Homo sapiens: one gene and its partner. The protein of the gene in region 2 purifies or fractionates together with the protein of the main gene of each other region. This does not show direct contact. Each region holds a gene or a part of one and is shown on either strand. Other genes may lie near its edges. The genes, in order: SLC39A10 and IGDCC4.

Region 1 (15,811 bases), on a different chromosome or scaffold from region 2:
TTACCCTCAGAGTCCCAAGATAACCTTGCATAATCATATTCAAAACTGGAAGATTTATCTTTTTTAAAATACAATTTTTATTTTTTTTCCTCCTCAGAAATCTTGTTTGGATGGAAGGTTCATCTTCATGTCTCTCTTTTTATCCAGGGAGAAAAATATTTCCCTCAAGCCTCTCTTTACGTATCTTTGATCAGTCAGGTCTCTACCACATGCCCATGCTAAAGCCAATCACTGGTTTACAGTAGTGTATAGTAATGTCCCAGGCCTTCACATTCACTCACTGCCCACTCACTGACTCACTCACAGCTGCTTCCAGTCCTGCAAGCTCCATTCATATTAGTGCCCAACACTGGTGTACCATTTTTAAAATCTTTTATACTGAATTTTTACTGTACCTTTTCTATGTTTAAACATACAAATATTTACTATTGTATCACAACTGCCTACAGTATTCAGTATATCAACAGGTTTGTAGCCTAGAAGCAACTGGCTATACTCTATAGGTAGGTGTATAGCAGGCTACACCATCTAGGTTTGTCTAAGTATACTCTATGATGTTCACACAATGACAAAATCACCTAAGCCTGCACCTCAGAACATACTCAGCATTAAGCAATGCATATGACTGTATGTGGGAGAGGCAATACTCACAGAACATGGGGGAATAAGAGGCCTCAAGAAAAAAGGAGGTAAATAAAGAAAAGCAGGCCGGGTGCAGTGGTTCACACCTATAATCCCAGTACTTTGGGAGGCCGAGGCGGGTGGATCACCTGAGGTCAGGAGTTCAAGACCAGCCTGACCAACATGGTGAAACCCCATCTCTACTAAAACACAAAAATTAGCCAGGCCTGGTGGCGGGTGCCTGTAATCTCAGCTACTCGGGAAGGTGAGGCAGGAGAATCGCTTGGACTCAGGAGGCGGAGGTTGCAGTGAGCCGAGATCATGCCATTGCACTCCAGCCTGGGCAACGAGAACAAAACTCTGTCTCAAAAATAAAATAAAATAAGGAAAAGTGGTCAGCTGTGTAACCATTATGTTGCCTGCTACAACCTAAATGCTCATCATTAGAATAAATAAATATGGTATATTTATTTAAAGATTACACTGCAGTTATAAATGTGACTATGAAGGACTTTGTATTAACATGCAATAATCTCAGAAATATAATTTTTAAAATTGCAAAAAGATACATGCTGTATAATTTACAGACAATCTTAAAACATGCAGAATTACTTATTTGGGGGTATATATTCATGTAGCAAGAGAACATGGGATGATTACATTCTGGAGTCATTATCTTCTCAGAAAGGGAAGGAGGGAAATCAGCTGATAGAGGAAGTACACAGATTTAACTGCATTTGCAGTGTGTTATTTCTTTAAAAAAGGGAAAGGGATCTAATGCAATATGATAAAACATTTAATATTTGTTAAAGCAAGATAATGGGATTCAGGTGCTTGATTATTCTTCTGTGTACTTTTCTATAAATCTGAAAAGATACCACATAACCTGCATCAGTGGTTAATCAAACTGTGGTTGTGAGAGCAGCATAAGCTTGCTAGAAATCTGAAAGGCAAATTCCTGCATCCCACCCAGACCTACTATAACAGAAACATTAGGGATAGGACCCAGCAATGACTTATCCAGCCTTTCTAGTGAGTCTGATGCAAGCTACACAAAATTTGAGAGTGCCTATTTACACATATAAATTAGCAATGACTTATCCAGCCTTTCTAGTGAGTTTGATGCAAGCTAGACAACATTTGAGAGTGCCTATTTATACAAATAAATTACCAAACACTTCCATTTCTCTAAAATGATACTTTGGGCTGGGCACTGTGGCTCACGCCTGCAATTCCAACACTTTGGGAGGCAGAGGTTGGCGGATCTTGAGCGCAAGTTCAAGACCAGCCTGAGCAACATGGCAGAACCCCATCTCTACAAAAAAAATACAAAAAAAATTAGTTGGGCATGGTGGCGTGTCAGAAGCCAAGGTAGGAGGATCATCTGAGCTTGGGTGGTCAAGGCTGCAGTGAGCCCTGATCTTGCCACTGCACTCCAGCCTGGGCAATAAGAGACATTGTCTCAAAATAAATTAATAAATAATAGTTTAGTCAACTGAATGTTATGATCTATCTGAATAAATTAAGTTGAATTATCATATATGGCATATATAGGTTAAGCATTTTTTAAAATAGCCTATAAAACAATTCCAAAGCAGCATTAAGTTTGAGATGTTTTTTAATCTCACAGTCTCATGGATAAAGTCACCATTTAAACGGTGTATCAATTTTACTCGTACACTAATGAAGATAAAAAGGCGTGGGTGATTAAGACCACTGTTAAGCAAAGGAAGATACATATTCCTTTAGCTCCCTGTTACACTCCCTGCAGTTACCTTGATTTTCCACTAGAAGATGCTAATTAAAGGTGTGAGTGTTGCTTCATTCAGCTGATATGTAAATACCATGAGGTTTCTTTAATGCATGTTATCTCACTGTCAAATGAATAGGTACCAGAGGTGGAAACAGGACATTCATATATATTGATCAGACATCATCAAATGAATGACTCCACGAAACACAAAAGCTGTAGATGGTTTACACAAGCTTTAAAACGTCATTTGTCTCTACTTTTTAAATACATCATACTCTATTATGGAAAAGATTTTAAGTATCTTGAGTACTCTAATCACTTACATTTAAGAGAATATAGGAATACAATGATACAAGCAACGTTATGAGGTAATACTAAACCTGTGCTTTTTTTTATTTATTAAAGTAAATCATTCACTAACTTTGCAACTTTAGTTTAGAACTACTATAGCAGATGTATGCTTTCAGAATCATTTAGGCCAGGTATGGTGGATCATGCCTGTAATCCTGGCACTTTAGTAGGAGGCCAAGGCAGGAGGATGGTTGAGCCCAGGAGTTTGAGGCCAGCCTAGGCAACATACTGAGAGCTTATCTCTACAAAAAAAGTAAAAAATTAGCTGGTGTGGTGGTGTATGCCTGTACTCCCAGCTACTTAACAGGCTAAGGTGGGAGGATTGATTGAACCCAGGAGGGCCAGGCTGTAGTGAGCCAAGATCGTGCTGTGCTGTGCACTCCAGCCTGGGTGACAGAGCAAGACCCTGTCTCAAAAGAAAAAAAAAATCATTTAGATGAAATATGCATTTTGTTATCACAGGCTAAGCAGCTATTGATTGCAAAGAGACCCCTCTCAAAAGGCAGTGGTTTAAGAAATGGGCAAGTTTTTGTCTCTCTCAATAACAGTTGAAGATGACTACTCCATATTAAATCACTTGGACATTAAAAAAAAAAAAGATGACCGCTCCGGGTCTGAGTGCAGCTCCGCTCCAGTCATTCAGAGACATAACATTCTTACATAGTTGATATTCCAGCCAACAGGGAAAGAGAAAGAATGGAAGTCCAGGTTCAGAAGTTTCTTCTTCAGTATCAAGGGAAGTAGAAGTTGCAGGCATCACTTCTCATCACATTCCATTGGCAAGGGGTTAGTCACATGATCTCAATTGGCTAGGAGGCCAGGGTCTCACCAACTTACAGAGTTTCCCAAGCATTCCAGTAGATGTTAACAATCTTTTCCATCGACAGCACAAAGAGGATCTCTGAGATGGAGACAGGAATGGGGGAAATGGTAGAAGCCCATATACCACTCAACCCTAAAAACTGACATTTATAGGACACAGCTTTGCCCAAGCCAAAATATTCTATTATGTCTCTTGTGTTTTGGAGTTTTCCAAGTTTTATGCATTAAGAATATGTTAGTTTTATAATTGATAATATTTTTTCAGTTCAGCTGAGTTACATCTACTGAAGAGTTCTGCTAGGTGCTGTCAACATCAATGGATGAGGCTACTGACAAGAAATGGGAAAAGGGATTCCGGTAAATAACTAGCAGTGCCACAACAAATTTATTTTCATCTTTTGCTGTTGATTTCCAATACATAACCACAGTTAAAAGCCTAAGTATTCTATCACTGTATAATTTCTGCATTAAGAGTGGGGCTAATTTACAGTTAGGAACTTAATCATTGTGCTAATTATTATACTATTTTGAATGCAAATATTTTGCTTTGGATGCAAAGAAAAAATGAAGTTCACTAATATTCTCTTGTATTTAAGACTAAAACCAGAACTAAATATGTAGTGAAGTGATTATACTTTGGTGTGGGGAGTGACTGGGCAGAATCATGAGAGGAATTCTGGGTTCCTATTAATGTCCTATTTCCTTACCTGGGTGCTGGGTACATGGTTGCACTTCACTTCATGAAAACTGCTTGAATTTTACACTTAACATTTGAGTACTTTTCTGTAGCTGTGTTATATTTCATCCAAAACTTAATTTTTATTCCCCACATGAAGTTTATTCCAACCTTCAATTAGTAAAATCAGTAACACATAATTTCTAGAAACACATCCATACTTAATAATACGCAAAGGGAAATGTGCTTTTTTTAACTTATTTTGAAATAATTTAAGATTCACAAGAAGTTGTAAAATTAGTTCAGAGTTTCCATGTACTCTTTCCCCAACTTTTCCCAATAACATCTAACATAACTGTAGTACATGTTCAAAACCAAGAAACTGACATCGATACTATTAACTACGAACCTTATTCAAATTTCATCAGGTTTTACACACACTCTAAAAAATATTGTAATAGAAAATCAATTTTCTAACCAGAAAAAAATGGCATTTTTGTAATAAAAAGATATTGCTTAACAAAATACATGGTTATACTTAAGAGAAAGGTTAACTAGATCCTTAAATGAAAGGAATTAGGGTGTGTGCTTCAGCAGCACATACACCAAGATTGAAAAAATACAGAGAAGATTGGCATAGCCCCTGCACAAAGATAACATGCAAATTTGTGAAATGGTCTATATTGTTGAATGTTGTCACCACAAAAAAACATGGTATGTGAGATAATGTATTTGTTAGCTCAATTTAGACATTCCACAATGTATACATGTCTCAAAATACATGTTGTACATAATAAATATATACTATTTTTGTCAAAAAAAAAAAAAGGAATTAGGGTTGATATTCTCCATAGCAATTTCTCCTGTAAAAGCTTACAAAAAACTTTTTTATTTTATTTTTGGAGACAGAATCTTGCTCTGTCACCAGGCTGGAGTGCAGTGGCATGATCTCCGCTCACTGCAACCTCCAGCTCCAGGGTTCAAGCGATTCTCCTGCCTCAGCCTCCCGAGTAGCTGGGACTACAGGCACACACCACCACACCCAGCTAATTTTTGCATTTTTAGTAGAGACAGGATTTCTCCATGTTGGCCAGGATGGTCTTGATCTCCTGAACTTGTTATCCACCCGCCTTGGCCTCCCAAAGTGGTGGGATTACAGGTGTGAGTCACAGCGCCCAGCTCAAAAACCTTTTTTAAAGACATTTATTCATTTTTATTTTTCATATAGAGATGAGCTCTCACTATGTTGCCCATGCTGGTCTCAAACTCCTGGGCTCAAGGGATCCTCCCCACCTCAGCCTCCCAAGCTGCTGGGATTACAGGTGTAAGCCATCGTGCCCAGCCTACAAAAACCTTAACTATAGGCTTTGGATTGTAGTTTTGAAATGTGTAAAATGCCAAGCTACAAATTTTAAAAATTTTAAATAAAATTAAACACCTAAATAACAAGTTCAGTAGGAATATATACAAATGGTTAACATGACAAATCTTCCTACAGATATTTTGTCTTAGATTGTTTTTTATTTCATATAGATGAACATAATAAAAATGTAGAATGTTTGAGATTTTAAAAATCCTCAGGTGTATTTAGCTAAATAATGTTATGTACAAGGAATCTAAGACCCAGAAAAGGTATCTAACGTGATTAAGCTGTTATTTCAAGTCTGTGGCATTTCTCTGACTTGAAAGACAGGGGCTCTTTAGTCTACTACAGTAGCATATTTGTGTATCTTGAAACCAGAACACTGTGAGATCTTTATTAAAGTCATCTAAAATATACTACAAAGACTTTTTTTAAGGGAAAAGAAATTGTCTCCTAATACTACTTACTCAATAGAAAAAACCAAGACATTGTGAATAAATTTAGATTACTTAACAAAATGACTGTCTGACATAGTAAGAAAAATAGCAGATAAATACTAAAATAATCCTAGTTCCAACTGCTGGAGAGGCCAATCAACTTAGTAATTTTTTTTTTTTTTTTTCTGAGAGGGAGTCACCCTGTTGCCCAGGCTGGAGCACAGTGGCACGATCTCGGCTCACTGCAACCTTTGCCTCCCAGGTTCAAGGGATTATCCTGCCTCAGCCTCCTGAGTAGCTGGGATTACAGGCGCCTGCCTGGCTAATTTTTGTATTTTTAGTAGAGACAGGGTTTCACTATGTTGGCCAGGTTGGTCTTGAACTCCTGACCTCAGGTAATCTACCCGCCTCAGCCTCCCAAAGTGCTGGGATGTGACCCAAAGTGCTGGGTGCGAGCGACAGTACCCGGCCCGATCAATTTAGTACTTATTGCCTGTGTGTAATCTACTTAACTCATTTCACTAAAACCAAAACCAACAACCAAAAAACAAACAAACAACAACAACAACAAAAACCTCTTTTTACTCTAGGGAGTATTTTTTTAAAGGAAAATGAAGACCAAATAAAAGAATGAGAAGTTATTATCTGTATCGCAATTCTTTCTTTCATACCCATGTGTGTATGCACATGTGCACATGCACACAAACACACAAAATATGCTAATAATGATGGGGAAAGATACTATAAGTTGCTTAGCAAGGTTTTAAAGCAAGCTTTTTCAGTGTTCCAGATTGCTATTCTGAAGGTAAATAAGGTAGAAACCAAAAGATTAATCACTAAAACCCTCATCCTGGATAATATACCATGTTTTAAGTAAACTTAATGTGAAAATCTATTCAATAAATGTATATACAGTTTCCTAATTTCATAAAGGACTTCATTTTTTAAAAGTTTCATTACAGGACTACTTTAAATGGTTGAAATCAGTTTTATAGCCTCAATCATATAAACACAGCTGGTATCTATATGACTGAATGGCTTTATCAAACTTTATCTTGACAGCAATGTAGGTAGTCAAATATCAATTTAGTTTCCTTCTGTGATTCAGTAATGGCACACACAGAGTAACAGAGAAGCAGTGAGGCTGTGTGCATAGTGAAGATAGATTAGCCTAGGAGTCAAAGATGTTAGAGATCTGACTCTGCCATTTATTAGCTATGAGTCCTTGAGCAAGTCCCTTAACCACTTTAAGTCTTATTACTACTTATAAAGTGGGACTGTTAATTTCTGTTCTATTTTATGGTAACTATAAGAACAAAATAAAATTACGTACATATTTTTGTAAAATATTTGTTAATTTTCCTACATTATTTGCAATATTTAAATGTTATTTAAGTGCAAGCTATTAATAATATAAATTGAGTTCTGTCCCTACTTCTCGTATATCCATTAAATGTGGTATTTTGTATACAGTACAGAACCAGGAATCAGAAACCTCTGTCTCTAGTTCATCCCGGTTGTGCCACTGTTTTCTCTCTGCAAAACAGGGAAAATAATACCTACACTTATCCACCAAATAAACCAATGTATACGAAACTGCTTTGTAAAGCAATTAAATATATTAACCTAAGGTATTACCATTATTAGATGTAGTATTATGTATCTTTCACTTAAATTACAAAAAGTATGGTGGAGGGGGAGGAGTCTCTCTGTTGTGACTCTTTTGAAAGAATGCTAACAAAATATTACAAGAGCACATGCATCGTTAGCACATCCAAGACCTGCTCTAGATTGCAGGAGGCACCCAATTCACTAGTATCTGAGCAGAAGTTGGAAAGACTCACTACACCTTACCAGTTTCACTGACATTAGAATATTCTTCAAGGGATAAAAAGTATTTTAGTAATGAGTTCTCAGCAGGGACCACAAAATCCTCTTACAGCTTCATGGTTTGCTTTTTCATCCCCCTACTTCACCAGCTATCTAATCTACTGGAAATCATATTCACAGTTTGGAATGCCACTGCAACTCTTCCAATAAATAAATAAAAGCACAGTTCAGGCAACCCAATCTTTCCACTGAGATTCATTCATGTAAAAAGTTAAGTGCATGCTAATTAAGCTTGGGCATTAACTCAGTTCTCCTGTTTCACTAACTTGAGAGAGAATATAAACATTTATACCTTGATTTAAAGTATCAAATCAATCAACAACACATCATATCTATCTTTATTGTATTCTATACATTCATGTACAAACCTACATTTTCTCATCAAATGTCAAAACAATTACCTGCATTTCTGCTTTTCAGCCTTTCATTACAGGGAACCTGGAACCATATTGGAGAAAGCTACCTGTAATATTGCTACCTCTGTTCTGCTATTTGTGAATACAAACATCTGAGATTAGTAAATGCAGTCGTTGGGATGTCTTTTGAAGCTACTAAAATGTTTATGATTTTAGTTACATGCATTATGAAGCAGACTTACAGTGCTAACCAGCCAGATGCAGTGGCTCACACCTGTAATCCCAGCACTTTGGGAGACCAAAGCAGGCATATGGCTTGAGCCCAGGAATTTGAGAGCATCCTGAGCAACATGGCCAAACCCCATCTCTACAGAAAATGTTTTAAAAATTAGCCAGGTGTGGTAGCCCATGCCTGTAGTCCCAGCTACCTGGGAGGCTCAGGTGGGAGGATTACTTGAGCCCGGGAGGTCAAGGCTGCAGTGAGCTGTGATCGTACCACTATACTCCAGCCTGGCAACAGCTTATTGTTCTCTTTCCACTCATCACTGACAGCTGTCTTTATTCTAAAAATAGCTACTGCTGCACTACCTCAAATCTTTATTATTCCATGCATTTTCACCCTTCCCTTTTTCAGTGTCTTGTCACTGTTATACATCCTTGATTTTATACCAGCTTGCCATTGTAAAAACTGCCAGCTAAAATGATCCTTCTTTTCCATGACGTCATGGGAAAAAAATAATCAAAAAATCTCCAAGTCAATCTTTGTATAACATTGACTTTTTTTATGTTTCAGACAACACAGAGGCTACTTATTCCCCAACATGGGAGCTTTCTGTCCAATTAATTTTTTAAAACTACATAAAATTCTTGAACATAGAGTCTTGACCACATTCCCCTTTCTTATATAGCTACATTCAGAAACACAGAGCTGGGGTCTTTTAATATATGCATATTAAATAAAAGGACAAAAAAATCAAGCTAATTATTACCAGAAAAAACAAAGTTGTGCAGGAAAGTAGTCATTTATTACAATGGCACATTGTATAAAATAATATTTATAGCATAAAAATGTAACCCCAATTACTGTTCTAAACCAAAATTACAATGAAAATTGTACGGAGAAACTGGAGTACAGGAAATAGGAAGGTATGCACAGAAGTGAAAGAGCACTAAAATCATTCTTCATTAAATAGATAATGGTTAGAACTGAAAATCAGCTGCAAGTAATGAACATGTTATCTGGAGACATGGTAATGAATAGCAAAATAATCAACTAAAGGAATTAAGGGGTTCCTTATCTCTCTAGGCAGAATATGAAAGGAACAGACAGGGGACTGATTTTTCCCCCCAAGAAACTTCACACAACTATTTGATTCTTTAAACTATATTCATGTATAACTTTGAAAAAAACCTAAAAGTTGGCAATTATAAATTAAATTTTAGTTGACAAACCAATAAAATAATGTCACATGTGGAAGAAAATGAATTCTAGCTTTAAGATTTTCACAAGCATTTGTCTGTGGGTTTTTCAAGTATTTATTTTTTGAGGCAGGTTTCCACTGTTGCCCAGGCTGTAGTGCAGTGGTGCAATGATAGCTCACTGAAGTCTCAAATTCCTGGGCTGAAGCCATCCTCCTACATAGCTGGGACTACAGGTGCGCAGCACCACACCCAGCTAATTTTATTTATTCATTTTTTTGACAGAGTCTCGCTCTGTCACCCAGGCTGGAGTGCAATGGCGCAATCTCTGCTCGCTGCAACCTCCATCTCCCAGGTTCAAGCAATTCTCCTGCCTCAGCATCCCAAGTAGCTGGGATTACAGGCACCTGCTACCACACCCAGCTAATTTTTGTATTTTTAATAGAGACGCCATGTTGGCCAGGCTAGTCTCAAACTCCTGACCTCAGGTGATCCAGCCCCCCTCAGCCTCCCAAAGCGCTGGGATTACAGGCGTGAGCCACCGTGCCCGACCTCACACTGGGCTAAATTTTTTGTCGAGATGGTGGTTTCCCTATGTTGCCCAGGATGGTCTCAAACTCTTGGCCTTAAGTAATCCTCCCACCCCGGCTTCCCAAAGTGCTGGGATTACAGGTGTGAGCCACTGCACCCAGCCTGTTTGCAGTCTGAAACACAATATGCAAACATTTTAATTCCAATTTGTGCTATTATCTTTGATTACTTGCTTCGAATGAATTCCAAGATGAGGGGAAAAACTATAAAAACTTTAACACTTTTCAGGTTTTGTCATATACTTACTTTCCAAATTGATTTCTAGAGAAATTAAGCTTGGTTATACTGCCACCAGCAGTATGATCATAGCACTCTCATTCACATTATTATAAATTTTTAAATAAATAAAAGGTCTTACTTTATTTTTAATTCATATTTTTAAAGTTATTCCTGATGTCTCAATATTTTTTCCAACATATATGAGCTTTTACATAACATGATTCAGTCACATTTTCTGCAAAAACCCTGCAGTTCTGTTCCTTTTTATTTTGATCATGTTTTCCCTTTCATGTATAGATGTTTTCATGTACATGCAATGAAACTTATTAAGGTTTCTGCAATTTCTTCTATGACTGCTGCTAAATTTTAAAAGTTTTTTCTCCCCATATTTTAGTGTATATTTTCTTATTTTTTTTTAAAAGAAAAGCTATAATTAAAAATAACTCCTAAAAAACTAAAACCCCTAACATCTATTTCTTTTTTAGGAAAAAGAAAAATGTCAGTTGCACTAACATCCAACACTTTCACACACATATCAGTTAACTAAAAAACCTTAAGTACTTGTGTTTACGCAAAAATCTTCACAGAAAAAGATTTAAGAATTTGTTTTAGAAATTATATATTCCATGAAATTATATTTACAGTGAATTTAAAGAACTTTTTTCTTAATATATTTCAGTGATTTAACTTTAGCATACCTTTCTGATTTTCAATTTTTAACTGGCATGATTATTTGCTTGAAAATAAATTCTATATGTACACTGTATGTGCTTTCATAAGATGTTATATACATTCAATTATTCACTTTATTTGGAAAAAACGGGAGAGAAGGAGGAGGGAAAGGGCTGAAAAACTAGTTGTTGGGCACCATGCTCAGTACCTGGATGACAGGATCATTCATGCCCCAAACTTCAGCATCACACAATATAACCCAGGTAACAAACCTGTACATGTACCCCCTGAATCTAAAATAAAAGTTGAAAAAAAAAAAAAGAAAAAAACTATAGACTATCCTAATTTAAAACCCAAATCTTTTTTCTGTTTTAATATACAATTTACTTTTCTCTTATTTCTTTTTTTTTCATAACTTCTATATTCTTGAAACACCATAAAATCAAAATCTTAAAAACAGTATATTCCAAACATTAAAAAATTATGAAAATATGATATGCTTTTCTAAAAAAGGTCCATGGGAATAGAAAACATGATCTCACTGCCTTATAATGTATATATACACAGAATACGTTATGTGTATATTATACTATCTTATTATTACGTTTTCTTACATTGTTTTACTGATCTCATTTTATAATGTAGTAACACACCATGTATTGTTTCATTTATATTGATAAAGTATTTAAATAAATCTTTCCCTAGCCCCTTTCATCAAGAAGCTATGTTCCTCTATAACACAGTGCAAAGTATATTTCTTCACATGCAAGCAAAATAATGTAAGGAGTCATCTTCAGTAGAAGTGCACTGAGTTAATATACCAAAATATTTGTTTAAAGGCCTGTAAGCATGCAGTTTTGAATTGCTTTATGAGGGGAGTGAGAAGATAGGAGGGAAAGGGGAAGGGAAAGAAGACATGAGACATAGGCGGCATAAAAATATGATCCATTTCCTGCTCTGAGAGAGTTACAAGGAAGACACAATCAGCTTTTCAATTAGAAAAGGTAAACTGTGAGAGAGCTACATAAGTAGCTACAAACAGTGTGACAGTTCGGTGGTAACCAACAGTTGAAGGCCAAGGGCTTCACATTCCTTTTCCGACTCCAAGCATAATAAAGCATAATTCCCTCTGCAGAGGAAAAATGGAAAGCGGAAAGAGACAAAAAGCTTCTCTACTATGTAGGTAAAGAACACCTGCAAATTCACATTACCTATGAATTGATCATTTGACTGAACATTTTTCTACTAAAGTATTTTACCGCAAGAGCAGCTATAGACAATACACACATCAATAAGCAAGTTTTGTTCCAACAATTTACAGAAGCAGGGATATTTGGCCCATAGTTTGCTGATCCAAATTTAATTTACAGATTTTTTTTTAAAGTGCCAATCCAGCAGACAATTATAGGGGAAACCACTATTTTAAAACTCAAAAATTCAAATATATAAAAGTGAATTTAGAAAAAAGCCTAGAGGTGGGAAGGCAAGGAATATCTGAAATTGTTTCTTTTTATTTATAGATATTAAAGTAATAGCATAGGCTGGGCACGGTGGCTCATGCCTGTAATCCCAGCACTTCAAGAGGCCAAGGCAGGTAGCTCACTTGAGTTCGAGTTTGAGACCAGCCTGGGCAACATGGTGAAACTCTTGTCTCTACAATAAAAAATACAAAACATTAGCTAGGCATGGTGGCACACGCTCCCGTATTCCCAGCTACTAGGAAGGATGAGGTAAGGGGATGACCCAAGCCCAGGAGGTCAGGGCTGCAGTGAGCCCTGATCTCACCACTGCACTCCAGCCTGGGGAACAGAGATACTGTCTCACAAAAAAAAAAAAAAGGGAACACCACAGTAGGATACATATCTCTGATGTTCTTACTACACTAAAAGTGACTGAGGTTTTTCTTCTTCCTTTATTCAATGAAAATCTAAAACCTAAAGTGATCACTGATTAAATCTTCATTATAGAGGATTAAAATTAACCTCCTTCGTAGTTCACAGTTCTTATAACAATACTTCTCGTCCTATGGAAGTACATAATGATATTAATAAGGATACATCCTACAACATTCTTGCTTTTCTAATCCCTAAAAATCTTAACGGGATGGGCTGTCCCCCAAAGTCGAGTATATAAAAGGGTAAAATTGATTAGAAATATTAATACAAGGATAAGTATTATCTGATACCTCCCTTTCAGCAGTATCTAAAAATGAGTAATTATAAAACATGATTATAAAAGGTTATGACAAAATATTTACTTTTAGATTGTGAAAATAAACACTACCTGAGCAAGATTTTAGATTTTGTCCTTATACTTGTACAAGCCTGCAAACCTGTATCACCAGTAGCATCCTATTCTAACATCTTTTAACATAAAAATATCTACCATTAAAAATCTATTAAATAACCACTCCTTGTATCTGGCAATCCAAAAAAACCCTTACGTTCTGATAGGAAAACAGTATTCGACACAGAATTACTGATGTGATACAATGAATTGTGTCCTGTTTTAACATGTCTGAACATTGTATGTGGTCTCCTAAGCAGTTAATTTGGAAATAATTTAGTATTACTGGCTGGGCACGGTGGCTCATGCCTGTAATCCCAGCACTTTGGGAGGCCAAGATGGGAGGATTGCCTGAGCCCAAGAGTTTGTGACCAGCCTGGACAACATGGCAAGATCCTTGTCTCTATATAAATAAATACATACTATTATTTAAAACTGTAATTTTGATTCTATATTTCTTCATACCTACTATACTTTTAAGCATTCCACTAATTTTTTATTGAGAATATGTTTGGATATTTTAGAAAAAGCTAAAAGTTATCCTGTGGCCTATCCATAGAACTTATAAGGGATAATAAAAAGAAAAAAAAGAGTTTGAAATACTGATATTGCAATAATCTAAATAAAACCTAAAACCTTAAGAGTTTGCATTGACTACAGAAAATCCTTTCTGTAAAGTAGATTTTGTAGAATGTTATCTGTTCATTGCCTTTGTGTAGTGGTATATTGTGTTATAATATCTGTGTGTAAACTGAATACTTGGGTTTCATTATAGTATTCACATAAAATAATATTAATGATATAAAAAAGGAAATCTTGTGGCTATGAAGAGGTCCTTGAAACTATTTTTTAAGAATCATTCTATAAAAGTCATAGAAAATAAATTCGAATTTTAAAAAAAAGCTCACAATGTAAATTTAACACTTTCAAACTTTATTATCAGTACAGTCAAAGCAATACAAAGTTATATGGAACTAAATTAATCTAGAAAGTAGATTTTTATATCATTCAAGATAAGGAGAAGCCCAGATTAAATATATAAAATTGTTGTTATTTACACAGCTAACTTCCCGCTTTGAAAACAATCCCATACGTAAATTTCTTTTTTGGAGCAAGGTAACTTGGTGATTGTTCTATCTCTACCCAAAATTCACCCCTATTTGGAAAACTGGGGGCTAAAAGCAATCAGAATTCACCAGTTCAAAAACACTTACGTCCATCTTATTAGCAACACTAACTACCCAGAGGAAACTAAAATAGACCAGATTTACAGCAGTAAGTAAATCTAATTGTAATTTAAACATTACCTTATTTTAGCAAAAGGTGAAGGGAATCAAACGCTAGGGGGCAGCATCAAACTGTTGTGGGTTAGGCTGGGCAGCCTTGCAAACTTTAAGCTTTAGGGTATTTTTAATGAGAATTACACTTACATAAAAGATGAATTATAAAACTTCCGTTATAAAGGAAAAAACTAGTTGTTTTGATTCCCTACATTTCTCTTCCATTTCCCATTGTGTACTTTCTTTTGCAACTATGACTGGTATCACTTTAAAATGCACTAGTAATAATGTCCTTCTGATACTAAACTCATGGCATTTCCAATACTGAGGTAAGCACTATATAAACACAAGCTGACATTTTTAGCCTAACCATAATGGTTAAGTTTTGATTCACTCAATTAGCATTTTAAACTTAATTAAAGAGCTTGACAAGCTCTGCATATTCATGTGTCATAAGCAGTATGTGACAAAAAAAACTGTGCAGTATGTACCCCCTCACGAAATTTAGTTTGGCAGGGAAAACAAGATGCACATGTTATTATAAATTAGAAAATGGAAGAGAAGTAGAAATAAATCCATGAGTATTATATATAAGTAACAGAACAAAAACAACAGGATAATGTATCCCCCCCAAAGGCCCAGTAGAGACCATCAAAGCTCATTCTGGGGGTAGTCAAGGAGGGAGTGGAGGGAGAAAAAGAACGCAGACCTTCAACCACTAATGAAAGAACTGAAACATCTGTATGTAGAAAAAAGGTAAAATCAACTCACTATCATCTTCAGCCTTTTGGTTATCTCATTTAATGGTCACAGTTAAGTCCGTGAGTAGGGTTTTTGTACTTGAAGTTCAAATAGAAGATTAAGATAAGCAACTTCCTCAAGGTAAGCAAACTAATTAATAGATCAAGGTTTTGAACTTTTAAAATTTCACTCCAAAGCCCTAAATTTTTTCCAGTATTGGTCAACACTGAGGGTAGAAGGGTTGGGTGAACAGAATATTAACAAGGTAAATTTCTCTAATCAGAAGGAAATGATCATCCCAGATGCTGAATTTTCCTTGCTATAATACTACATC
Region 2 (16,075 bases):
TGGGAAGGCTTCCTCACTTACACATGTGGTTACTGGGCTGGAAGGAGTCAAACAGCTGGGGGCCAGAACAGCTGGGGCCCCTCCAGCCCCTCTGCCTCCATGGGGTCTCCATGATGGAGGGCTTCAAAGTGGCTAGACTTCTTACATGGTGGCCCTGGGCTCCAAAGGTGCATGTTCCCTAAGAGAAAGCAGTGCAGGAGTAGTATCCCCTTCTGTGACAGACCTCAGAAACCAGGCAGTATCACCTCTGCCACATTCTGGTGTTTTTGTTTTTTTTTTTGAGATCGAGTCTTACTGTGTTGTCTGGGCTGGAGTGCAGTAGTGTGATCTTGGCTCACTGAAGCCTGGGTTGAAGCAATTCTCCGGCCCCAGCCTCCTGAGTAGTTGGGATCACAGGCACACACCACCACACCCGGCCAATTTTTGTATTTTTAGTAGAGATGGAGTTTCACCATGTTGGCCAAGCTGGTCTCAAACTCCTGACCTCGGGTGATCCACCCACCTTGGCCTCCCAAAGTGTTGGGATTACAGGTGACAGCCACCACGCCTGGCCTCTACTTCTTAAAGGGAAGAATGTCAAATAACTTGTAGACATACTCTAAAACCACCACGGTGGTGGCTTCGGTTATCTAGTCTAGAATGATGTGAGTACCATGGACCCCCACTGCTGGTCTACAGAGCAGGTCATCCATAAATTCTTGATCTAGAGTCAGAGAGCCAACAGACATTTTAGAGATTACTCAGGTAAGTGCTTCCCAATGTTTTTTTGATGCTCAAACTCCATTCACAATAATGTGCTATCTTGTCCCCTGCTTAGAGATTTAGAACTTTCATCATTTTTGGCCCAGGCATCTCAAGCCTGTAATCCTAGCATTTTGGGACGTTCGAGGTGGGAAGATCACTTGGAGCCAGGAGTTTAAACCCAGCTTGGGCAGCAAAGGGAGACTGTCTCTCCAAAAAAGTCAAATAATAAAATAAATGAAATTTTCATCATTTTTGCATGGTTTATAATAAAGAATTAACTTTTAAAAACCATTCATTCAGAAAACATTCACTGGGATTTTACTATCTTCTGTGCACTGTGCTAGATGCCAGGGAGATGGGAGGACACATGGTTCCCACCACAATGAGCTTACTGTCTAGCAGTGGAGCCAGACAATTTAACAAAGGATGATAATAAAGTGTCCTCAGTGCTCTGATAGGAGAAGTACCAGCTCACAGAATACTTTGTCTGGTTCTGATCTCTCTGCTTAGATTGAAACGGCATTTCCAGGCCAGGCGCTGTGGCTCATGCCTTTGGCTCACACCTGTAATCCCAGCCACTTTGGAAAGCCTAGGCAGGCAGATCACCTTGAGGTCAGGAGTTCCCTGGCCAACATGGCAGAACCCCATCTCTACTAAAGAATACAAAAATTGGCCAGGCACGGTGGCTCATGCCTGTAATCCCAGCACTTTGGGAGGCCGAGGGGGGTGGATCACTTGAGGTCAGGAGTTTGAGACCAGCTTGGCCAACATGGTAAAACCTCGTCTCTACTAAAAATACAAAAATTAGCCAGGTATGGTAGCCTCCCAGCTACTTGTGAGGGTGAGGCAGGAGAATCGCTTGAACCCGGGAAGCAGAGGTTGCAGTGAGCTGAGATCGCGCCACTGCACTCCAGCCTGGTGAATACAAAAATTAATCAGGCATGGTGGCAGGCGCTTGTAGTCCCAGCTACTTGGGAGGCTGAAACACGAGCGAGAATCGCTTGAACCCGGGAGGCAGAGGTTGCAGTGAGCCACTGCACTCCAGCCTGCGTGACAGAGCAAGACTCTGTCTCAAAAAAAAAAGAGAGACAAAAAACAAAAAGAAAATAAACGGGCCGGGCGCGGTGGCTCACGCCTGTAATCCCAGCACTTTGGGAGGCCGAGGCGGGCGGATCACGAGGTCACGAGATCGAGACCACGGTGAAACCCCGTCTCTACTAAAAATACAAAAAATTAGCCAGGCGCAGTGGCGGGCGCCTGTAGTCCCTGCTACTTGGGAGGCTGAGGCAGGAGAATGGCTTGAACCCGGAAGGCGGAGCTTGCAGTGAGCGGAGATCGAGCCACAGCACTCCCGCCTGGGCGACAGAACGAGACTCCGTCTCAAAAAAAAAAAAAAAAAAAAAAAAAAAAGAAACGAAATGAAACGAGAAAAACAAAAAAGAAACAGCATTTCTAGCACTTTAATGCTGTCACTTGATGCCATACAGGGCCCTCACACTCAACTTGTTTAAAAGGCCAATTCACTTCTCTCTCCTCGGTTCTGCTCCTCCCCCATGTTCCCTTCATTTAGTAGTATCCCATCCACCTAGTCAAACCTACAAGAATTCTAGCCCTGTCCCATTCTCTTAACCACTACATTGACCTGTTCCCAAGATGTCACTTCTGTCCTAGAACTGTCTCAGGGAAGTTAAGAAAAAAAATAACTTTAAAACAACATGTTAGGCCGGGCGCGGTGGCTCACGCCTGTAATCCCAGCACTTTGGGAGGCCGAGGCGGGTGGATCATGAGGTCAGGAGATCGAGACCATCCTGGCTAACAAGGTGAAACCCCGTCTCTACTAAAAATACAAAAAATTAGCCGGGCGCGGTGGCGGGCGCCTGTAATCCCAGCTACTCGGGAGGCTGAGGCAGGAGAATGGCGTGAACCCGGGAAGCGGAGCTTGCAGTGAGCCGAGATTGCGCCACTGCAGTCCGCAGTCCGGCCTGGGCGACAGAGCGAGACTCCGTCTCAAAAAAAAAAAAAAAAACAAAACAAAACAAAAAAAAAACAACATGTTAATTCAAGGTAATTTTAATATATTTAAATTAAATTGATTATTTTAAAAACCCTGTTCCTCATTTAATAAATGATGCATGCCTATTTTAAAGTAATTAGGGGCCACGCACAGTGGTTCATGCCTGTAATCCCAGCACTTTGGGAGGCCAAAGCGGGCAGATCGCTTTGAGCCCAGGAGTTCAAGACAAGCTTAGGCAACATAGTGAGACCCTGCCTCTACAAAAAATTCAAAAGTTAGCTGGGTGCATGCCTGTGGTTCCAGCTACTAGGGAGGCTGAGACGGGAGGATCACCTAAGCCTGGGAGGTTGAGGCTGCAGTGAACCAAGATCGCGCCATTGCACTCCAGCCTGGGCAACAGAGCAAGACCCTGTCTCAAAAAAGAAAGGAAGAGAAGAAAAAGAAAAAGAAAAAGAAAAAGAAAGCATCATTTGTCAAAAAACAAATAAATATATATATAATTTATATATATATTTGTGGTTTGAGGACCAAATATACAACGAAATATAATAGTGTGGGCCAGGTGCCATGGCTCTCGCCTGTAATCCCAGCACTTTGGGAGGCTGAGGTGGGCGAATCACAAGGTCAGGAGTTCGAGACCAGCCTGGCCAATGTAGTGAAACCCCATCTCTACTAAAAATACAAAAATTAGCCGGGCGTGATGGCATGCACCTGTAGTCCAAGCTACTTGGGAGGCTGAGGCAAGAGAATCACTTGAACCTGGGAGGCGGAGGTTGTGGTGAGCCCAGATCACTCCAGTGCACTCCAGCCTGGGCAACAGAGCAAGACTCCATCTCAAAAAAAAAAAAAAAAAAAAAAGGAAAAGAAAAAGAAAAACAAATTAATAATAGTGTGTTATAGGATCAAAAACAGACAAAAATTGCTTTTATAATATGGTTGCCTTTTGTGCTAAATATTTTAAATTTTCTGAGTTTTATTTCTGAGATGTGAAATAAAAGATTTTAGGATTTATTGGGAAGTATTCCCCACAAAAAAAATATATTGTGGATATGGATGATTTGTCTTTCCAGTAAACAACAAGCCAAATTAGATTCAGTTGTCCTTAGATTTTGTTTTTTTTTAAACATCGTTTTTTAGGCCAGGTACAGTGGCACACTCCTGTAATCCTAGCACTTTGGGAGGCTGAGGCAGGCAGACTGCTGCTGAGCTCAGGAGTTTGGGACCAGCCTGGACAATCTGACGAAACCCCACCTCTACAAAAAAATATCAAAATTAGCCAGGTGTGGTAGCACCTACCACTGCTTGGGGGCTGCTGAGGTGGGAGGATTGCTGGAGCCCAGGAGGTTGAGGCTGCGGTGAGCTGTGATCATGCCACTACACTTCAGTCTGGGAAACAGAGCAAGACCCTGTCTCAAACAAACTAACGAAAAATAAATTTGGTTTTTGACCTGTCAGTGACTGAGTTTTGTTTTATTTGTTTGTTTATTTTTTCTGAGACAGGGTCTCATTCTGTTACCCAGGCTGGAGTGCAGTAGTGAAATCTTGACTCATTGCAACCTCTGCCTCCCAGGCTCAAGCAATCCTCCCACCTCAGCCTCCCAAGTAGCTGGGACTACAGGCACACACCACCACACCCAGCTAATTTTTTTGTATTTTTGTAGAGACGGGGTTTCACCATTTTGCCCAAGCTGGTCTTGAACTCCTGATTTCAAGAGATCTGCCTGCCTTGGCCTCCCAAAGGGCTGGGATTACAGGCGTGAGCCACCATACCCGGCCTGTCATATATTTTTTATGGTCCCACATGGCTATAAATTAAACAGTGTATAAATGACCAAGTATGAAAATAAGTTAAAGCTGTTTAATGATAAAAACCATGACAGTGAACCATGTTTATCTGAGCATGTTCCTCGACCCTCCACTAACCACCACCCTGGAACACCCCATACACCCTTGGAAGCTTTCCATGTTACCAGCTGAAAGAGGAAAATAATAGAATATTTTATTATTGATTTTTTTTTTTTGAGACAGAGTTTAGCTCTTGTTACCCAGGCTGGAGTGCAATAGTGCCATCTTGGCTCACTGCAACCTCTGCCTCCCGGGTTCAAGCGATTCTCCTGTCTCAGCCTCCCGAGTAGCTGGGATTACAGGCATGTGCCACCACGCCTGGCTAATTTTTGTATTTTTAGTAGAGACGGGGTTTCATCATATTGGTCAGGCTGGTGTCGAACTCCTGACCTCAGGTGATCCGCTCGCCTCAGCCTTCCAAAGTGCTGGGATTACAGGCATGTGCCAGCCACCATGCCCAGCCTGATTGATTTTTAAAAACACATTAAAACAGGTGCTATATCCACTTTTAATGTTGTGAACTCTTTGGAACTGGTTAGAAATGTGCATCATACCCCAACCCTTTTGTCTCAGTGATGAAACTGAGGCCCAGAGAGAGGATGGAAGTTGCCCAAGGTCATGCAGCAAGTCTGTAACCAAGGCAGGACAAGAACTATGGTTCTTACTCCTGCTGGGCTTGGCTGGCCTGAACCTGTAACTCTATCCCTCCTCCTCTCACATTTACTCCCTACCCAGAGCCCATGTAGTGAGATATGAATATAGATAAATTAATTAGATTTTTGTATGTGGCTGGTAGAATTAGTCTCTCTATATGGCAACACCTTGTTCATTCATTCAATTGACAAATCAATTGCTTTCTAGATAACATATGAGGCCAGTCCATCTGGCCCTGGCCTCCCTGTTTGGCTTCATGTCCTGCCCCTGCTCCCCTGCCCAGTCCACACCTCCTGCACTCTGCTTACATTGTCTTTCCTGTAAGACTTCTCTGCTTCCCCCAGGTCTGGCCCGAGTGCCCCTCTTCCCTGTACCCCATCACAGACTGTATCACACTTGTCCATCTCCCTCAGTAGCCTAAGCACCATTCAGGCAAGATTCCTCTTGTTCGCCAGTCTGCTCCCAGTGCCCAGAGCAGGGCCTGACCCATAACAGGTACCCCTTGAATCAATGATTGGATATGCCATTTCCAGGCAGGAAGAGCACACTTCCCTGTGCTCTCACAGCCCAGGGCCTCTGCAGAGGGAGTTTCTTGACCACCCTGTCAGTTCTAGCCTTTTAAATTGTCCAGACCCATGTCAAACATCCACAGGTCTGGCCCGAGTGCTCCTCCTCCCTGTACCCCATCACAGACCGTATCACACTTGTCCAATCAATAGTTCTGTGAAGCCTTCCTTCTCAACCTCCATGTCCCCCCACCCCACACACGGTAAATCCCTCCTCCTTTTGTTCCATCCTCCCTGCCACCCCATGCCACTTAGGACACTACTATCCTTGTGGGCAGGGACTTGTATTTTTTATCCAGGTCCCCTGGCACCTACACAGTGTGAGATACTGATTTAGGTGCTTAGCATTCAGCAGTGAACCTAGCAAACAAAAATCCCTGTCCTCATGAAGCACACATTGTGATTGTGAGGGGTGGGGGAACAGATCGAAAATAAGTAAAATGTAGAGCATATTAGTAAGTTACAAGTGTTGGCCGGGCGCAGTGGCTCATGCCTGTAATCCCAGCACTTTGGAAGGCCGAGGCAGGTGGATCACCTGAGGTCAGGAGTTCAAGACTAGCTTGGCCAACATGGTGAAACCCCGTCTCTACTAAAAATACAAAAAATTAGTCGGGCATGGTGGCAGGCACCTGTAGTCACAGCTACTCGGGAGGCTGAGGCAGGAGAATCTCTTGAAACCAGGAGGCGGAGGTTGCACTGCGCTGAGATCGTGTCACTGCACTCCAGCCTGGGCGACAGAGCAAGACTCTATCTCAAAAAAAAAAAGAAAGAAAAAAAGAAAGTGACAAGTGTTGGCCAGGCGTGCTGGCTCACGCCTGTAATCCCAACACTTTGGGATCCAAGGCAGGTGGATCACTTGAGGTCAGGAGTTCGAGACCAGCCTGACCAAATGATGAAACCCCGTCTCTATTAAAAGTACAAAAAGTTAGCTGGGCATGTAGTCCTAGCTACTTGAGAGGCTGAGACCCAAGAATCACTTGAACCCAGGAGGCGGAGGTTGCAGTGAGCCACTGCCCTCCAGCCTGGGGGACAGAGTAAGACTCTGTCTCAAAAAAAAAAAAAAAAGAAGAGAAAAAGAAAGAAAATAAAATAAAAAAGAAAGTGACAGTTAAAGACAAGAATAGACAGCAGGGAAGGAGGATAGGAAGAGTAGGGGGTGAGGCTGTGAGAAAGCCTTTATGGTATCCAGTATGAGGGAACAGATCTCTAGACTTGCACTGGCCGGACAAAGGTCTTGAGGCTGGAGGGGAGGAGGCTGCCCGCGATCAAGTTACAGCAAGGAGGATGGTGTGGCTGGAGAGGTGGTGAGCACAGGGGGTGGTGTCGAAGGGGAGGTCAGAGAGGTAGAGCAAGCCTACAGATCAGATAGGCCTTGTGGGTCACAATAAGGACTTTGGCTTTTGCTCTGACATAGGAGCCGCTGGTGGGTTTCTAGCAGAGAAGTGGCATGATCTCATTTTAACAGGAGCACTCTGGCTGCTGTATTGAGAAAACACTCAAGGAGGACAAGGACAGAAAAAGATCAGTGAGGAGTTTGCTGTGACAATCCAGGTGAGAGGCGACGGGTCTTGGACCAAGGCCACAGTGAGAAAGTGGAGGGTGAAGCATCTGAACATGAAGAGTAGGAGATGACTCTACATTTTTTTTTAATAGAAATGGGGGTCTCGCTATGCTGGCCAGGTTGGTCTTGAACTCCTGGCCTCAAGCGATCCTCCCACCTCGGCCTCCCAAAGTGCTGGGATTACAGGCGTAAGCCACCAAGCCTGGCCTCTACATTTTTGACCTGGGCAACAGGAAAGGAACTGAGATGAGGAAGACTGTGGGAGGAGAAAGATTGATAGAAAAGATCAGGATGAGTTTGTCTACTAGACAGCTAAAGGAACTGGGGCCTGGATGGCTGGATACAGAAGTCCAGGGTTCAGGAAAGATGGTCTAGGCTGAAAGTATACATTTGGGCATCATTAGCATAAAGATGCTCTTTAAAGCCTTGAGGACCAGATGAGATCACTAAGGGAAGCAAGTGTTTCAAGGAAGAGGGAGTGATTCACTAAGTCAAATGCTGCTGATAGGGCAAGTGAAGATGGGGCGTGGCAATGAATGAATAAACGCCAGGCCTGTTAGATATGCAAAGCGCCAGTGATTATTGAGGGTTAACTGACAACAGACAGGTGTAGAGACAAGATGGCTCTAAGTCACAGGAACACTTAGAGACACAGGGAAGGGAAGAACTATGGCATCTTGGAGTTGGAAAGGACCTTAACTAGGTCATTGAATCTGTACTCTTTTCCCCACCCTAGCCTGACAATTGAACCCTTGGCTGTAGAACAAGAAATATTTGCGGGATACTGAGGCAAACAGTCTGGCTAGGTAGGTTAGAGAAAGTACCGTTGAAGAATGAGAAAAAGGGTACTTCAGTAAATGCTGGACAGCAGAGGCAGGGTGAGGGAGTGGAGATGACCTTCCGAAGTCAGAAAACCAAGGTTCAGGTCCTGTATCTGCTGCTCCCTAGCCTCCTGTCCTTGGGCAAGTCACTTCACCTTCTCCAGCCTCAGTTTCCCCATGCGGCGACATCTGAATATGGTAGTGCTTGAAGGTAGTGTAAAAGTGTCCTGCCTGTGTTAGTTACTGCCAGAGCAAGGGAAGGAGGCCAAGAGAAGCCCTTGGTTTGGGATGGCAGATAGGACTATCAAGATCTCCGCAGGTGGGCTGGCGCAACGTGTGGAGAAGCGAACCAGCATTCAGGCCAGGACCTGGGCTGGAATGGACTGGGCTCGGGTGGCAAGGGGGCCATCTGGACAAAGACCGTGGCCCTGAATCTGCCTCCCCTGAGCCTGGAACGGAGGTGGAGACCCCGAGGCAGCAACAGGGAGAAGAAATAGAGACGCTGAGGCAGAGAGACCAGAAGACTCAGAGACGGGGAGACTAAGAGACAGACCCAGCAACAGGCGGCCTCACGGGGGCCCGCGGCGACCCGGAGAGGGCGAGGCACCGGGACACAGACCCGGGCCGAGAGGAGCCCCCGCGAGGCGCAGGGCCGTGGCGCGCGGGCGCAGGGTCCCCGGCGGGGCCAGGGTGGCCACACTCGCCGGGCGCCCCCTCCCGGGCCGCTCGCCCAAGATGGCGATGGAGGGGCGGGTGAGGCGGCAGCGGCCCTGGCCCCCGCGCCGGCCCCAGCTCGGGCCCGGGCCCCCGAGGCCGCGCCCCCGCCCGCGGCGCCGCGCCTCCCCGGGCCACTGACGCCCGGCGCGCTCTCCCCCCGCGGCGGCGGCCGAAGCACGGGGAGGCGGCGGCGGCGGCGGCGGCCCGAGCCCAGCCCCATGGCGCGGGGGGACGCCGGCCGCGGCCGCGGGCTCCTCGCGTTGACCTTCTGCCTGTTGGCCGCGCGCGGTAAGGGCGGGCGCCCGGAGAGGCAGGAGCGACTGCGGAGTGCTGGTGCGCCCGCGCCCTGGTCTGCATCGGGCTGCGGGGCTGGCTCAAGCCGGAGTCCCGAGCAAGTGCGGGGGCTGCGCGTCCAGGTGCCCGCGATGCCTGCGCGGGGGTCTGCGAGCTGCGGCCGGGGGGCGTTTGTGGGGCGTGCTTGTCCGCAGTGGGTGTGTGCCTTTGGTTCGCAGAGTCTGGAGTCGTGTGTGTGTGTGTGTGTGTGTGTGTGTGTGTGTGTGTTGGGAGTGCTCCTGTCGTGTCCGCAGTGCGTGCCATGGTCGCGGCGTGGCATCGGCGGGGCGGGTAGCTGCGGTGTCGGTGGCTTTCGCGGGGCGGGCTCTGCCTTGCCTGCGCGTGTCTTGGGTTGAGAGTGTGTGTAAAAGAGGAGGGAACTGGGGTTGTGTCTGCACCTCCATTTGGGTCGGGTGCGTGTGCAATTGTGTTTATGGGGCTGAGCTAATATTTGGCCTTGGCATTTGGGAAGTGTCCTTGCCCATAGTGGGGGACAGAGCGATGGATCCCGTTTGACTGGGGGTGGTGGTGATAAAACAACACTCAACTTTGCCCAGTGGGTGTGGTCCCTGGGGCCGGTTAGAGAGGGGTAGAGGGAGGTGTTGCTCCCCAAAACCTGTGGCCAGCAGTGGACTGGGGGAGGGGGCAGGAAACCATTTGCTTTCGTGGACATGTCCAGCGCTTGTTCTCACGATGGGACGCGTGTCACCCCGGCCCCACCCCCCAGGGACCGACCAGGGAAGCGTGGACGAGGTCAGCAGGGCCTCATCCAGTCCGCAGCCCAGTGCGGAGTGGGTACGGGGTAAGTCAGAGTTGTCCAAGCTGGAGAAAGGGCTGGGGAGGGGATAGCGAAGTCCCCAAGGGTGTGTGTCTAGGGCTGCGGCTTCCACCCACAGCTCTGTCGCTTCCTGTCCGGTGTGCGTTTGGGGGCGGCTCATGGGGAGTGTAGGTGGCAGGGCTGGGAGGGGGATGGGCTGGCCGCTTTGTTCGCCTAGTTCTTGCCTTCCCCGCGGAGGGGGGAGCTGAGGATGTGTCCGGGGAGAGTCGGGGAGGGACTTGGAGGTGGGGGTGGGGAGGGGGATTTCTCTCCAGCTGCTGCGGCTTTCCAGAGAGACTCAGCCAGGCCACGTGGGAGGGAGGCGGGGGGAAGGAGCCTCCGCCTGGCCAGCCCCAGGCCCATCTCCAGGAAAACCAAACAGCGGGTGGGAAAGTGCCGGGAACTCCTCGGACCCCTTCTGTCCCTACAAAGACACGCCCCTTTCCAGCCCCAACAGCGGATTAAGCTGGAGGCCGCCGCGAGGCTGGGTCTCGGCTGCTGGGCCAGAGGAGCTGGAGGCCCTGGCTTGTCAGGTGAAAGGGGCGGGGAAGTGTCAGAGAGAGGTCTGTCTTCCCAGAGCTCAGGGGATTAAGGAATAGTTCCCCTGCCCCACCTTCCGCTATTCCTAGGGCTCCTGGAACGAGCTCAGGGTCACCCAGCTAAACGGCATCAGGGCTGGGAACCGCACCGGCGCATTATTCAATACCTTTAGGACCTGCCGCGAGGGACCCAGCTTCCCTGGCCTCTCCCTGCTCCCGAACGCACAAAGCAGGCGAGGGACCGAGTTGCGGCGTCTCTTGGTTGCAGTGTGAGTGGCTACAACAGCTTGCCCTGGTCCTCCAAATCTCAGCAGGCCGGGGGACACTCCAGTCGAGTCATGACTAGCCACCCTGATCTGTACTGAGGTCATTCATTCGTTCAACAAATATTTATGGAGCACCTTTTATAGGCTAGCTTGTGCCTAGTGCCTAGAATATAGTAAATAAGGAGGCAGACCTGATCCCTGGTGCAAAGCTTTCAGTCTGGTGGAGGGGGAAACTGACAAGTCCCCTGAAGTGCTGGGGAAGACGCAGGAAGGAGGGGCTCCTACACCGATCTGGGAAGGTCAGCAAAAGCTTCCTGAAGAAAGTGATGAGTAGTAGAGCTCGACATGGAGTTAGCCCTGTAGAAGGAGAATGATGATGGGGACAGTTTTCCAGAGAACAGCATGTGCAAAGTTCAGAGGTGATTTAGTTGAGATCATTGGATTAAACTAAATCTAGCTGGAGTTTAGGGACAAGGGGTGGATGGGGGGCAGGTGAGGGAAGCATGGAAAGGGGTCAGGGAGTATCAAGACAGGAGGCTGAAGAGGGGAGCTAGATCCAGCTCACAAAGGGCTTTACAGGGCCCACCAAGGTTTCTGGCCTGAGAGTCCCCATGAGCCCTTGACAGGATTTAAAATCAGCTTTGCATCATCTCATTCCAGCCAGTGTGGAGGATGGATTGGGTGGGGCTGGAGGCAGGAAGCTCCAGCTCCTTCGAGGCTGTTGTAGCAATCCAGAAGAGAGGATGGTGGCAGCTAGCATAGTGGCAGTTGGGGTTGGGCTGGAGTGGCTGCATTCCAGAGATTTTCAGGAAATAGAATCAGTAGAACTTGAGGATAGATTGAATTTGTAGGGGGCGAGAGAGAGGAAAGTAAGAAATAGGCCGGGTGCGGTGGCTCACGCCTGTAATCCCAGCACTTTGGGAGGCCAAGGCGGGCGGATCACGTGAAGTCAGGAGTTCAACACCAGCCTGGCCAACATGGTGAAACCCCATCTCTACTAAAAATACAAAAGTTGGCCAGGTGTGGTGGTGCATGCCTGTAATCCCAGCTACTCGGGAGTCTGAGACTCGAGAATCGTTTGAACCTGGGAGGTGAAGGTTGCAGTGAGCTGAGATCACGCCACTGCACTCCAGCCTGGGCGACAAAGTGAGACTCTGTCTCAAAAAAACAAACACAACAACAACAAAAAAACATGAGGCAGAATGAAGGGCTGGTATTGGGGTTAGGATAATGCCTGTGCCTGCCCATCTCCTCCCAACACTGTTCTTGAGTCAGGGACTGGGACCCCTTTGTGAACAGGTGGCGAGAAGCCGAGCTCTGTTCTTATCACACGCACAAAGGTGGGGCTCTCGGCTCTCCCTTCTTCCCAAGTCAGAATTTGGAGGGTAGGGAACCTAGAGGTCAGTAATGGGAGGCCTCTAAGAACTTGAGAGCTTTCTCCTCACCTGGGAACTCCTCACCTCCCCCATCCCTTTCTCAGCCCAGAGGCTCAGAGGCCAATCTCAGTCATTTGGGGTGGGCCTCTTTCCCCATCTTGGAAGTTAGGAATCAGGTCAAACAGTTGGAGTTTCTTTTAATAATGAATCTTATCCAGAAGATACCTAAACCTTCATTGATCCTCTATGTGCTTTCATGACTCAATTAAACACACATTTACATGTTAATTAGCATTTCTTTTCTCCTAAACATATCTCTTTCAAGTGAAGCAATTTCACAATTAGCGCATCATTGAATGTCAGCACTGAGAGGAACTTAGAAATAATTTCAGGCCAGGCTCATACCTGTAATCCCAGCACTTTGTGTGGCTGAGGCAGGAGGATCGCTTGAGCTGAGTTTGAGACCAGACTGGGCAACATATTGAGACCTCATTTCTACGAAAAATTAAAAAAAAAAAAAAAAAAAGCATGGCGGTCATGGTGGTGTTCCCTGTTGTCCTTGCTGCTCAGGAGGCCGAAGTGGGAGGATTGCTTGAGCCCAGGAGTTCAAGACTGTGGTAAGCTATGATGGCTCGCACCACTGTTCTCCACCCTGGGCAACAGAGTGAGACTCTGTCTCAAAAGAAGAAAGAGAAAGAAAAGAAGAAACAATTTTAGCATGAACCTGTTTTTACAGATGAGAAAACTGAGTGACTTCCCAAAGTTACATGATTAGGGACTGAAATGGGGCCACCCTTTCTAGGGATACCCAAGTTCACTCTCTTTGCACTCCTCTATACCTTCTGAGACGTTATCAGCTTCATGCTCTCCCTCTCAAGTGGGTCTATCTGGGCTCTGGAATCCACCCTCCTCCACTTAACCCCCCCCACCTCTTTCTATTCTCTCCCATGGTACAGCAACCAGACTTGATACGGAATTCCAGATGCAGAGCAGATGTCATTACCAGGCAGGCTTGGGGGCAGGGGGAGGAGTAAGCATGGCTCTGAGGGAGAGGACCCCAGCCTGGTCAGAGGTGGGTGACAGGAGCTAGGGGGCCAGGGAAGGAAAACCAGAGAGTATGTTTTGGAGCCTGACATGCAGAGAAATCAAACCCTGTTACCTGTGCCAACTGGGCTGCCAGCTACTACTGCCTCACTGCTGAGGCTGAGTGAGGTATCCTTTGGATTTGGGGGCCCATGGGGTCCTTGGGATCAGGGAAGCAAGGACCAATAAGCTGTCCTTCAGGTGCAGACCCAAGACTCCTGGATGGTTCTATAAGGGACTTATGACCTTGTTAGATAGTTTGCAGGACAAAGCTCTGGCCAGTGAGCAGAAAGTACTGGGAGAGACAGGTGGGCACAAGAGAAATAAATTTTTTAACCATATGAGCCATACAGCAAGAGAACAGGCAAGGTAGTGATCTCCCCAGCCTGGTCATGTTTAAGTACAGGGTTTCTTTCAGTGTGGACTTCAGCTGTTCTATCTCTGCTTTTCAAGCATGTCATGTCTACTGGGTGCCACGCAGTGTGCTAGGCAGTTTCCACATGTCTTCCTGACATCCTTTCTTGCCCTGAAGGGAGTTACTGTTGTTTTTACAGATAAGGAAACTGATGCTTGGAAAAGCATAGGGGGCTCTATGCCTTATCTTTTTGAGGATGTCTTCATGGGTTCACTCATCCATTCAAGAAATGTTTATTGAGCACCTACTGTGTGTTAGGCACTGTTCCAGGTACCGAGGATTTAGAAAGCTAAGACATAACCCCAAGACTTTGGTGCCTAGTTGAGGAGAAAGGCAAGTCAAAAACCTAGAGTGAAGGCTGGGCATGGTGGCTCACTCCTGTAATCCCAGCACTTTGGGAGGCCAAGGTGGGCGGATCACTTGAGGTCAGGAGTTCGAGACCACCCTGACCAACATGGTGAAATCCCGTCCTACCAAAAAATACAAAAACTAGCCAGGCATGGTGGCGCACACCTGTAGTCCCAGCTACTTAAGAGGCTGAAGCAGGAGAATCACTTGAACCTGGGTGGCAGAGGTTGCAGTGAGCCGAGATCATGCCACTGCACTCCAACCTGGGTGACAGAGTGAGACTCCGTCTCCCCCCGCAAAAAAAATCTGGAGTGATAACTGCGATGATGGGGGTGCCAGCGTTCTACGGGGCAGAAAAAGGAGAGGTGTCTAAATCAACCAGGGACATCACAGCTGTTCTAGGGAGTGAGAGCAGCACCAGCAATGCGTGGAACAAGATGTGTTTTCAGAGAATTGGCCATGGTTTGCTGTGTGTGGAGGGGTAGAGGGTCTCAGGGGAGCGGGAGATAGGCAGGTCAAGCTGAGCCTGGCTTTGCTGTTGGATAGGCTGAGGCTGAGACTCTCCCCTCAGGATTGCAGATGAAGGGAGAGCTGAGGCCTTCCTTGTGTCCCAGGCAACTGTCCCAACTCTCCTTCCAGCTGTTGGGGGGAGGGGCTCAGCATGTGGTAAGGGAGGTGGCCAAGGTTGGGGGCAGGAAGGAAGGTTTCTGGAAGGAACCGACTTGTGTTCTCTGGGAAAGGAGAATGGTGATGGTGTCGTGGAGAATTTCTCCTGGGCTGCAAACAAGTAGTAAATCTGTTGGGCCCTGAAATTCAGAAGTGAGGAGGCACTGATGTGATGTTTGTGGCAAGTTCCTGGCTTAATAAAGGAGCCATCTTGGCCTCGTTGTTCCCCTCCCCCAGCTACACGCCCCTTCCCTAAGAATTCACTGAAAAATGGAACTCACGCCAGGCCTCCACTAATCCCACGAAACAGCATTGAGCTGGCCCTGGAGCTCAGCAGCGAATCTCCTTTCTGTCTGGGTTCTAATTGGCCTCATAAAATCCAGTTTATCCTGTAAGTGGGTAAAATAATCTGTCAGAAAAAGGAGATTGAGAGGTGGCCCTAGGGTTCCCAAATGCAGCAGCTCTGTGTCTCTGACAGGGTCTCACTGAGGAGATTGAGGAGAAGGGATTATGGGAGGGGTGGCCCCCTCAAGACAGAAAGCCAGCGGGCAGCAAGTGTCCACTGGGCACCTGCAATGTGTCCACCCCGGCACTGAGAGGGAGGGCTAAAAATGTTGGGGGTCAGCCATGACAGTGGGCTGGGGGTGGCAAGTAAGCGCTGGCCATGAAGCTCCTGGACAAATAAGGTCCCCTCCCCAGAGCATCGCTTTTATGAAAAGATTTGGTGGTATGGGAGCCACACTTATATTAAAACAAATATTGCTGTGTTATGGAGCAGAATGCAAAATGTGCTAGAGGTTTGGCCGGGCGCGGTGGCTCATGCCTGTAATCCCAGCACTTTGGAAGGCCGAGGCGGGCGGATCACGAAGTCAGGAGATTGAGACCATCCTGGCTAACACGGTGAAACCCCGTCTCTACTAAAAATACAAAAAATTAGCTGGGTATGGTGGCGGGCGCCTGCAGTCCCAGCTACTCGGGAGGCTGAGGCAGGAGAATGTCTCGAACCCGGGAGGCGGAGCTTGCAGTGAGCCGAGATTGCGCCACTACACTCCAGCCTGGGTGACAGAGCGAGTCTCAAAAAAAAAAAAAAAAAAAAAAAAAGTCAAAACATTTTAGGCAGTCAGCGAGCCTCGTAAATATGTGTTCCTCTGCTGTTGAGAGAATTTGGGTGAAAACGTTTGAGAAGTTTGGAGACTTCTCATTTTAAAATTGGGGAAACTGAGGCTGAAAGGACAAAAGTAGCTCACACAAGGTCATGCAATGAATGACTGGACTTAGAACCCAGGACTCTGAGGCCAGGCTTGTCCCAC

Evidence for each region.
Region 1: the proteins of IGDCC4 (region 2) and SLC39A10 purify together in Homo sapiens (affinity purification with mass spectrometry; 2 studies listed by BioGRID and IntAct, with this or other methods). This does not show direct contact.

What each region holds. Positions count from the first base shown.
Region 1 is NC_000002.12:195,659,472-195,675,282, reverse strand, and holds part of SLC39A10 (zinc transporter ZIP10 precursor), read right to left. Parts: intron 3,627-15,811; exon of another isoform or gene 3,563-3,626; intron 1-3,562. UniProt on the Homo sapiens protein: Zinc-influx transporter. When associated with SLC39A6, the heterodimer formed by SLC39A10 and SLC39A6 mediates cellular zinc uptake to trigger cells to undergo epithelial-to-mesenchymal transition (EMT).
Region 2 is NC_000015.10:65,415,928-65,432,002, reverse strand, and holds the start of IGDCC4 (immunoglobulin superfamily DCC subclass member 4 precursor), read left to right. Parts: upstream 1-9,055; 5' UTR 9,056-9,140; coding exon 9,141-9,210; intron 9,211-9,600; exon of another isoform or gene 9,601-9,948; coding exon of another isoform or gene 9,949-10,057; intron 10,058-12,433; exon of another isoform or gene 12,434-15,154; intron 15,155-16,075.